2 separate regions of the Homo sapiens genome follow, and region 1 is linked to region 2. A link means that fine-mapping ties the variant in region 2 to the expression of a gene that starts in the linked region. Tissue or cell type: whole blood. Region 2 holds a variant in brackets; the other region holds the start of a gene. All regions are shown on one strand. Distances are between the middles of the regions. Region 1 holds the start of ARAP3 (ArfGAP with RhoGAP domain, ankyrin repeat and PH domain 3). Region 2 holds the start of LOC124901092 (a long non-coding RNA gene).

The links. PIP is the estimated chance that this variant, and not a neighbour inherited with it, causes the effect.
Region 1: ARAP3 starts here. The variant in region 2 is fine-mapped to the expression of ARAP3 in whole blood (INTERVAL, PIP 0.97).

Annotation. Positions count from the first base shown.
Region 1 is chr5:141,680,131-141,685,434 of GRCh38, reverse strand. ARAP3 (ArfGAP with RhoGAP domain, ankyrin repeat and PH domain 3) reads left to right here and starts at 3,205. Exons shown (of 33, transcript NM_022481.6): 1 at 3,205-3,262; 2 at 4,932-5,304. The coding sequence starts at 4,949. RefSeq lists a silencer at 3,156-3,205.
Region 2 is chr5:141,717,167-141,722,542 of GRCh38, reverse strand. It overlaps LOC124901092 (a long non-coding RNA gene), which reads left to right and starts at 1,735. Exons shown (of 2, transcript XR_007058973.1): 1 at 1,735-5,376. The variant T/C (reference allele first, on the strand shown) is at 3,246.

The DNA.
Region 1 (5,304 bases), 37 kb after region 2:
CCACCTCCTGGCTCAAGCAATCCTCCCACCTCCACCTCCTGAGTAGCTGGGACTACAGGTGCACACTACCACACTTGGCTAATTTTAAAATTTTTAGTAGAGACGAGGTCTTGCTATGTTGCCCAGGCTGGCCTCAAACTCCTGCTCTCAAACAATCCTCCTGCCTTGGCCTCCCAAAATGCTGGGATTACAGGTGTGAGCCACAGTGCCTAGCCGAGAGACCTTGTTCTTAATTACTGCATACCATCCACTTTTGGTGAACAAAGTGGCCTCCAAAGTGATTGTGGCTTAATAGTCTATCATTTGAGTGGGGAACAAATCGAGACATGGAAGGGGCTATTGAAGAATTCCCTTCCACATCTCCTCATTGCTTCATTCTTCCTCTTCCTCTGCTCACTAGTGTCCCTTTTGTCCTATGTGTTAAGATTAAGATTTAAGATTTACTAATTTCGGCCGGGCATGGTGGCTCACGCCTGTAATCCCAGCACTTTGGGAGGCTGAGGTGGATGGATCACCTGACAGGAGTTTGAGACCAGCCTGGCCAACATGGTGAAACCCTGTCTCTACTAAAATACAAAAATTAGCTGGGTGTAGTGGCAGGCACCTGTAATCCCAGCTACTCGGGAGGCTGAGGCACAAGGCTGAGGCACGAGAATTGCTTGAACTCAGGAAGACACAAGCCAGGGGCCAGAAGCCTCCACCTGCCCCATATCATTGAGCCAAAGAAGGGAAGTGGGGTCTGAGGGAGGAAGCCAGGTCTCCCTCTCTGTGGCTCTGCCCCATCATCTGGCATTGGTGTCCTTAACTTGGAGTCAGTGGACTTGGATGGGAAAAGAATATTACTTTCACTAATCTCTAGCTGAAATTTAACATTTCCTCCAATTATGACAATAGCAACAAACCAGTCATTTTAGCCATAACTATGGCTTTGTCACCAGTAGAAATCACATATATTTTTATATCATATTACAATATTGCAGATCTTTTGAAATACCATTTATGCTCATCACTGCATCAAAGTTATGTGAGGTATCAACCTACCACTAGATCTTATTTAAAGCATTAATAAAGAAGCACATATATTACTATATCACATCGGTTTTATATGTGTATTACAACATAATTGGTTTCCTTTGCAATCCTATATATTTTATTTTATGCATTTTAAAATATTATTCTGAGATGAGACCACATACTTTACCGTATTGCCAAAGGAGAACATGGCACAAAAAGGTTCAGAACTCTTGCATCTAGCCCCTGACCCAAACTCCCCGGCATCCATTCCTCAAAACTCCCTGTGCCCTTTACTGTCTTTTCCTGCTCCCTTATTTTGCTGGGTTAGTCTGAGTCCTTAAAGAAGAAGCTGCCAAGGCAGAATGCAAGGATTTGACTAGGGGAGATGCCTGTGAGAGAGGAAGGGAGCCTGGAGCTAGGAGAGCTGTGAAGGAGAGAGGGAAGGAATAAAGGTTGAGAGGAGCATCCTAAAACACCAGTCAAAGGAAAGTTCAGCAAAGCCATTGGGAAATCTTGATCCAAAGTCAGCTGTCAAAGGAGTCCCCTATCTCCCAGGAATGGGTCTGCCTTAGATCTCTGCTGAGCTCTGTCACTGGCTGGGAGCAGCCCAGTGGGAAGCTGGCCTTAGATTTCAGAGAGAAGCAGCTGGGGCCATTGGTTAATTTCACTCCTCACAGTGTAAGATCTGTGAGGAGCATTCTCACTGCCACCACAGTTGCCCATCTGAAAAAAAGGACATGGTGCAGGGGTCCTGTCCAGGGTGGTAGGTGAGCATGGTAGTTATAGATATAGACTTGGAGGGTTGGCTATTTTCTAGCTGCAGAGTCTTGAGCAAGTTATTTAATGCTCCCTGTCTCCTTATATGTAAAATAGAGGTGATAAAATTTCCTATTTGTAGGGATATTTGTGAGGATTAAAGTTTGCAAAGCAATGTTTACATAGATCCTGGAGCACGGTCAGCTCTCAATAATTGGTAGCCCTTATTATGGCTATTGCAATTATTATTTTATTACTATAATTCTCTTTCTCAAAGGGAAGGCCGGGAAAGTGGGGCTCCAGTAGGTTGAAGATGACAGTCCCTCCCCTAGCTGAGGCAGCTGGAAGAGGTGGGAACCACTTCCTCCCACTCCCCTCTTCTTCCCCTGAGGCAGGGGTCTTCCCCTAGCTACTGACAGTTCCTGTGTCTGCTGACTCACAGCCAACTTCCTCTCATACAAACAGGAAAACACAGCCGGCCAGCGCCCCCGCCACCCCCAACACATACACACACACACACACACACACACACACACACACACACACACACACACACACAAACACCCCCCCCCCACACCCAAACACTGGTCCTGCTCAGAGAGGGAAGTGCCTCCGCCCCTGGGAGACAGGCTCCAGGACCGGGGTTCCGGCAAGATTAGCGAAGGAGAGAAGGGCCATTCCTCTTCAGGCCTCCCCGGCATCCCCCCTGAAATTTTAGGGTGGGAGTTGGGGAGAAGGGGCGGCTTCTCCCATGAATGAAACAGCTGCTTGCTTGGTCACTGAGCTTGCAGGGCGTCCGCCTGTCCCAAAAAGGCAGCCCCAAACCTTGGTTTGGAAGTAGGGATGTGCCTTGCGGACCTTCATCCCTCGAAGGAACCTAGGCCGGGCCCTTGGGGATGGAAGTGGGGAGAAACAGACGGGTACCCCTCTGCTGGGCCTCTGCGCTTGTTGCCCAGGCCAAGTCTCAATTCTGGATGTCCAGCTTCCGTCCCCACACTAAACTGGTTGCCAGGGTCCAGCCACCCTTCCGGGCGTGGGAGAGGTGCCCTGGGGGATTAGGGCTCGACCTTTCCTCCTCCCTTTTGGCAGGACTGGAGGGCATGGGAGCAGCGGAGAGGATGCAAAGCCGTCCCTGGCACTCTCCCTTTCTCAGTTTCTACCTCCGTCCCAGTCTCCGTCCCGGTCTCTGCCTCTTTGTCCCTCTCCCTGAGGTTGTCTTCGTCCCAACGTGTTCTGGTCCTTTCTCGGCCTGCGAGAGGGCAGACTGGGGGCAGACTCGGAGATAAGCGCGGCGGTTGGGCAAGAAGCCCAAACCCTTTGGAGGCCTGCGCTTGCACAAGGAGTGGCCGGGGCCCCGCGGAGGGAACCGGCCGGGCGGGGCGGGGCTGGGCCCGTCGAGGGAGGGCAGAGGGGAGGCGGGGCCGGCGCGGCGGGACCCAGAACCTCGGACGAGCGGCGGGCACCCGCGAGCGGACGGCGGCCGCGTAGTGAGGTGAGGACCCCCGCGCCCCCCGGGTCCCTGCTTCCCAGACTCCTCCCCATCACCTTCTCGAGGGCCTTCGTGGGCTCCCAGGCCCCCTCGGCGCCGGCGGCCCTCCCCATCCCTGCCACGACCCGCCCCTCCCTCCTGCTGCCCGGCCTCTGCCCCATCCCTCCTCGCCCCCTCCCTCGTCGCAGCCTGCGCTGCCCGCCACTGCCCGCCCCGCCCCCGCCACTCCTGTCCCGCGAGCACCTCAGCTCCCAGCCCCGTGCTGTCGAGCCCGGCCTGAGTCACCGGGAAACCGGGCCCTGAGTCAGGGCCCGAGGCTCAGCACGCGGGCCCTGGCTTGGGAATGAGGCCCAGCTGGAGAGAGGCAGAGGGAGGCCAGCAGTGATGCTGGGACGGAGAGGGCGTCCTGGTCACCGACAGAGCACAAGAGTAACAGGGAGAGAGCCTAGGCCGAGGCGGAAGACAGAAACCCAGGCTCAGAGGCAGACAGAGACACAGATACAACTCAAGATCTGGTTAGAATTGTAGACTGAGTCAAGGACAAGCTTAATAACAGAGAGCAAAACAGGGTGGGACAAGGAGAGGGACAAAGAAGAATTGAGAGGTTGAGATGGAATGGGGCAGGGACAGTGACAAGGCAGAGATAAAACTCAGGGGCCACAGAATTAGAGACAGGTCTATGAAATAGACCAGGGTCAGGGTCGGGGTCAGGCTGGTGGAAGGGGGACAGAGCACAGAGACCTGAGCCCAAGGGAATGAGCAGGGAAAAGGCAAGCTCAGAAAAGGAAGGCTTGGAGAAAGCAGAGGTGGGGGGATGGCATTTCACACTGCCAAATCGCTACAGGGCATGTGCACACACAGGTGAACAGCATGTGAACATGCTGCCGGTGGGCAGAGAGTCCAGAAGCCTCTGGAGTACCCCTGACCAGAGGTCAGGCCTCATCTCTCTGGCATCCCCATCCTTATTCTTCAATTAGCCTCCACCCAGGGCCGGGACCCCACACATTAGGACTGGTTAGGGCTCTCCCGGCAGCCTGACCAAAGCAGGCAGGATGTGGAGGCGGCCAGGGCTGGAGGGACAGGAAGGAAGTCTGAGCAGAGACAATAGGTGGAAGGGGAGGAGGGACTGGGAACAACCAGGATTAGGACGGCAGGCCTGCATACATCGGCTCTGGAAACAAGAGGGAGGGGGCGTCTGCACCTCCTTCCTCCTATCTAGGCTGCCCCTCTCCCTACCTTACTCCAGAGCTGATTGGCCACATCATTGGCCCCTCCTCTGCATCTCCCTATCCCACTCTGACCCACAGCATTCTAGCATCTTGTCCCATGCTTACTCAGTTGGATGTGCAGTCAGGCAGGAGCAGAGCTTTGACCCAGACCCAGGGTGGGCAGGAACTGAGGGGCCAACTCTAGCACTGACTTACTGTGAACCTGGGGCAAGCCCCTTCCCCTCTCTGGGCCTCAGTTTCCTTAACTTCAAATGAAGTCCCTTCCCTAAGTAGAGAGCCATTGCTGTTGTTCTGGGATGGCTCTGCTTCCAGATCGCAGGCCTTTCAGCATCTTTCTTTGGAGGAAGATTGGAGGCTGGTGCTCACTGTCCAGGCCTCAGACTCTGGGGCAGAGAGGGGGATTCTCAGCCTGAGCCCTCCCTTCACCCTGCCCCTCCCCCCAGCAATGGCCTGAGCCCCCATGGCTGCCCCTCAGGACCTGGACATCGCTGTGTGGCTGGCCACGGTGCACCTGGAGCAGTATGCAGACACGTTCCGACGGCATGGCCTGGCTACAGCAGGTGCAGCCCGGGGCCTGGGCCACGAGGAGTTGAAGCAGTTGGGCATCAGCGCCACAGGGCACCGGAAACGCATTCTACGCCTGCTACAGACAGGCACCGAAGAGGGCTCCCTGGATCCCAAATCAGATAGTGCCATGGAACCATCCCCCAGCCCAGCCCCGCAAGCCCAGCCCCCTAAGCCCGTGCCGAAGCCCAGGACCGTGTTTGGTGGACTCAGTGGCCCTGCCACCACTCAGAGACCTGGGCTGAGCCCAGC
Region 2 (5,376 bases):
CTAATTGCAAGAAAGGCCATCTTGCCAACTAAAATATTCTACCACATTGGAAGAAAAGGGGAACAGCTGTTGTCAGGCAACCAGGAGCCTCTGCCATAGCAACCATCCCATCAACAAGATGGGAAAGTCTGCCCAGAGATGTAGTTAACACAGTGGAAAGAATAGATGAGAGATGGCAAGAATATTATCAAGGCCCAGAGACCTAGCCATGCTGAAGTCCAGCTCTACCTTTGATTTTTCATATATGAGCCAAAAATTTTCTTCTTTTCCCTTTTGCTTCAACTACTTTGAATTGGGTTTCTAGCAATTGACACTAAAGAATTCTGGCTAATTAATGGCAAAATCAGAAGGTAAAATGTCATAAGGGAGAAAGAGGGCAAAAGGACCATAAGGGGAAGCCAGAGTCATGAGGAAACAGGAATCTCAAGATGGAAAAGCAGGCCAGGTGTGGCAGTTCATGCCTGTAATCCCAGCACTTTGGGAGGCCAGGGCAGGCAGATCACTTGAGGCCAGGAGTTCGACACCAGACTGGCCAACATGGCAAAACCCCATCTCTACCAAAAATACAAAAAATTAGCCGGGTGCGGTAGCTCACACCTGTAATCCCAGCTACTTGGGAAACTGAGGCAGGAGAATCACTTGAACATGGAAGGCAGACGTTGCAGTGAGCCGAGATCACGCCATTGCACTCCAGCCTAGGTGACAGAGTAAGTCTCTAGTCTCCAAAAAAAAAAGAAAGAAATTAGTTGGGTGTGATGGCACATTCCTGTAGTCCCAGCTACTCAGGAGGGTGAGGAGGGAGGAGAATTTGAGCACAGGAGGCAGAGATTGCAGTGAGCTAAGATCACACCACTGCACCCCAGCCTGGACAACAGAGTAAGACTTCACCTCAGAAAAAAAAAAAAAAAAAAAAAAAGAGGGACACAAAAGCAAAAGCCACAATACATAGAAAATGGGTGGTGAGAGGAGAAGAGGCAGACACAGAGAGAAGCTAAATTACTTGAGCTACCACCTCTTCCTCCAAAGGTCCTTCCTCTAAGCCACTCCGAGGTTCAAATAACCTAGTTCAGTTACAATGTGTATGGAAAGTTGTGTTATTGGTCAAAATATTTGCTGTTCCTCCCTTGGGTGCCCTTTCTGAAAGTGGAACATACTTCCCATTGATGAGAGGCCTGCCATGCGATTTGCTTTGGCCAATAAAATATGAGGGAAAGCTTTAAGAATCAGTGTGCTCCTCTATTGGCCTGGGCTCCAGAGTGAAGAAAGCAGGGGAGCAGAGCTGCAGCTGACCCATGACAGATATGTAATATAGGGGAGAAATAAACATTTGTCATAGGCCTCAGGGATTTGGGGACTGTTTGTTACTGCAACATAATGTAACCCACACTGACTGATACACAGCCTATATTTACAGCAGTTCCTGCTCATCTTGTAGCCTGATTATTCATCTTTTCCTGGATTTTCAGGCACATATTTCCTTACAGTCTTCCCTCACCTATTCCTTTTTTTTTTTTTTTTTTGAGATGGAGTCTCGCTCTGTCACCCAGGCTGGAGTGCAGTGGCGCAATGTCTGCTCACTGCAAGCTCTGCCGTCTGGGTTCACGCCATTCTCCTGCCTCAGCCTCCCGAGTAGCTGGGACTACAGGCGCCTGCCACCACACCCAGCTAATTTTTTTGTATTTTTAGTAGAGACGGGCTTTCACCGTGTTCTCCAGGATGGTCTCGATCTCCTGACCTTGTGATCCACCCACCTCGGCCTCCCAAAGTGCTGGGATTACAGGCCTGAGCCACTGCGCCCGGCCTTCCCTCACCTATTCTTATAACCAACAAGAAATAAGCCTTAAACAGTCTTCCTGATATGTAATATTATTCTGGAGAGCGCTATCCCTTAAGCCAGGAATTACAGGACTGATGTTTCATGATCAAGTATCCCTTTTTACCAAGTCCCTTTCCAACTCCTAATCTCCAAAACTTCCTGTAGCCTCAAGAGAATGTGGAATAAATAGATCTGATTATTATAAAACTGCACAATTGCATGATTTAAAGTAATTTTATTTTACTGAATTTCATGTTTATAAATTTTAAAGAATTTCTTTAAAACAAAATCAGAAATGGTTCATTTTACAGATGCTGACTTCTCAAACTTAAGAGAGTCATAGATTTGAGTACATACTGCACTAGTGATGATAATGATGATACAGACATAAATTTATGCAGAACTTTCATATTTCCAAAACATATCACACATTTGCTTGCTTTAAATTCACAACAGCCTGCAAATATTATTCCCATTTTACATATATGGAGACTGGGGATGAGAAAGTTAAAGGAACTCTTTACAAATTATGGAGGTGGTACTGTATCTCCCAGCACCTTGTTCTTCTGCTGCTTTTCCTCCACCTGCTACATCTGTCATAGCAGGCACTTATAGGAAAGGGGGGCACCTACCTCCATGACAGAAGCTGGGGAGGGGTAGTCAGAGACATCCCTGAGTTGAATAAATAAGTGAATACATGAATATATGACTAACTGAATGGATGCATGAATGGATGGGTGGACGATAGATAAATTGATGAGTGGATTGATGGGCAGATTAATGGATCTATGGGTGGGTGGATGATGAATGGGTGAATCTCTTTTGTTTGGATGAATGGGTAGATGGATGGATGGGATTCCTGTGGTCTCAGAGAAAAGGCAGTGGTGTTCTCTCAGTGTCTAGAAAGTGTGTACAGACACTTATAATACTCTACCAGCCAGAATTCCTTATGCTTAGCCATATCTTAACCCTGCCTGCCCAGGTATTTCAATCATCCTTCATCCTCAAGAAAATAGAATATCTTTCAGCCATAAGGTTGTCTATTTCTACTCTCCAACTTACTAGCCATGTTTACTGTACCTCTCCCTGCCTCAGTTTATTCACCCGTAAAATGGAGATGAAAATAACATCTCATTCATAGAGTTGGAATACATAATATATAGATAGATCATTTAGTAAAGTACCTAACATATCATAAATTCTCGATAAATAATAACTATCACCCTTAATATTCCCTAAAGTTCAGAATGGTTGCCTGTGAAAATCAAAGTGAGTCCCCACTCACTAAGCATGCCATATGGTCATTATGGTCTTTAGCCCTTTTTCATTAGTGGTGGAATCTGCAATCATACAATAACCTTTATTTTATTACACAGCCCTTGGAAATTGAGGGTTTCATCTGTGTCAATTAATTCCTTCGCAGCCCACA[T/C]TGGCAGTGACAATCAGAATGTCAAAATGTCTCAGAGGATTTCTAGGAAATCTGTGGCACTTCACGAAGAGGCTGCCCCGGGTGAGAGACCAGCCAGAGTGAATCGTTAATACACTTCCCAGGAAGGGGGATTCTTCTGAAATGCTAATACAATCAACTGCAAGGCAAACTTCAAGCTTCTTTTTCAGTGATCAGAGAGGCCCTCCCAGAGCAAGGATGCTCTCCACTGTGCAAGCTAAAGGCCCTACTTTCTCACCCAGCCTTTTCTGGGGAGGAGAAACACATCCTCACCACATTGCAGCTGCCCTGCGAGGGCTGCAGGTATTGTGTGTCCCCACCAGCCAGGGCAGTTCCCAGACAGACTCTGGCTGCCTGGACCCAGGTCTGCTCCAAGGAAGCAGCACGTTTCTGGAGGAGGCTTAGCCAAGAAACCATTACGGAGTGAGAGAGGAGTTATCTGGATAAATGCGGAACTGCCCAACTCCTAGCATTTGTTCCTGGGACCCAGGCTGTAACATCCTCTGGAGCCAAACTGCCTCTGTTCAAACCCTTGTCCCCGCACTCCACCTCCTAGCTGTGTGGCACTGTGTGCATTACTTAACTTTGCATGCCTTACTTTTTCCATTTGTAAAATGCATATAATAATAAATCCTACCTCCTAGGGTTGTGTGAGGATTTAATGATTTAATAAATAAAAAACACTTAGAACAATTCCTGGCACATGGAAAGCATGTATAAAATGTTAAGTATTATTATTCATTCTTTCATACATTCCCTCATTCATGCATTTATTAGTCTTTCCACTCATCCACTGATTCCTGCACTCATGCATGCATACATCCAACATTCCTATCTGAACCCTTATTAACGAATGAGGTCATGTTAAAAGTGAATAATAAATATCAAGTTTAGGTTTGAGAGACAAAGAGCTACCAAGAGTAGCCTGGGAAAGGTGTCCTAAACCTCTGCTTTGTGCAGGCACCATGCTTAAAACCTCCAACCGCATGCATTTGCTCATGTGGTTTTGTCTCCTCAGATGCTTCTCTCCCCCTTCTTCTGCCCCTCTAAACCCAGAAAACCCTTACTTATCCTCCAAGGCCCAGTTCAAGGGTTATCTCCTGGGTGAAACTTTTCCAGCTTCCGGGCATAACTATTCCCCATCTCCTTAATGAGTAAACGACTGATAGAATGAATAAAGGCTCCCACAGCTCTGTGTTCATGTTGATGTTACAGCCTGTATCACCTTGGATTATAATTAATTGCTCATGCTTCTCCTGCCTGGAACACTCCCCCTTAAGCAGCCTGCTTCTATTTATCCTTCAAGCCTTAGTTTAGACGTCACTTCTTCCAGGAAGCCTTCTTTGACTTGCCAAATATAGTCTTGGGGCCTCTCCTGCAAGTCCCAACAGCCCCTGTTCCTCCCCCATCACCACCCTGGCCATACTGTAAGGTCATTCCTGCCTTGCCTGACTGAGGCCTCTGTGGGACTCCATCCTCTGTGAGACCAGGGGTCAGGTTGGTCTTGCTTACCACGACATTCCCAGCACCCAGTCATGTCATGTACAGTGTCTACAATATGATTGGCACCTCCAGAAGGTTGTGCAGCATGCAACTCTGTATGGCAGCCCTGCCCTGGAAAGGTGCCTGACACCGAATAACCAGACAATAAGTATCTGGTGAATTTATAGATGGTGGCTAAGCTTGGAAACCCCCAGGTTCCTGTGTCAGGTGTCACTCTCATTGCCCCTCCAGGACCCTCTGGGAGGAGCAAAAGTGTTGCAGGTTCTCCCCCTCCTCCTCCTTCAGGAGCTATTCTGTGTTTGGAAAGCTCTCAGCACCTTAAGGTAAGTGGGGTGTCAATAACAGATGGCATGGAATAGGGTGGTGTAAAGGGAGGCCAGTGTCCTGAGCCTGAAAATAAGGAAGCCACTACTCTCACCCAAATAACAGAAAACTGAGTGCTTCCAGCAGATCACATAGGCTCCGCCCCTGGCCCCCCTCCAGCTCTGACAGAAGACACCTGAAGCTCCTCCTTCTCAAAACATTTAGGTGTTCCAGCACTGAACCCTCAGAAGGCAGAAAAGAGAAGTGGTTAAGACAGAGCAAGCCACATTTCTAATTCCAGCCTCAC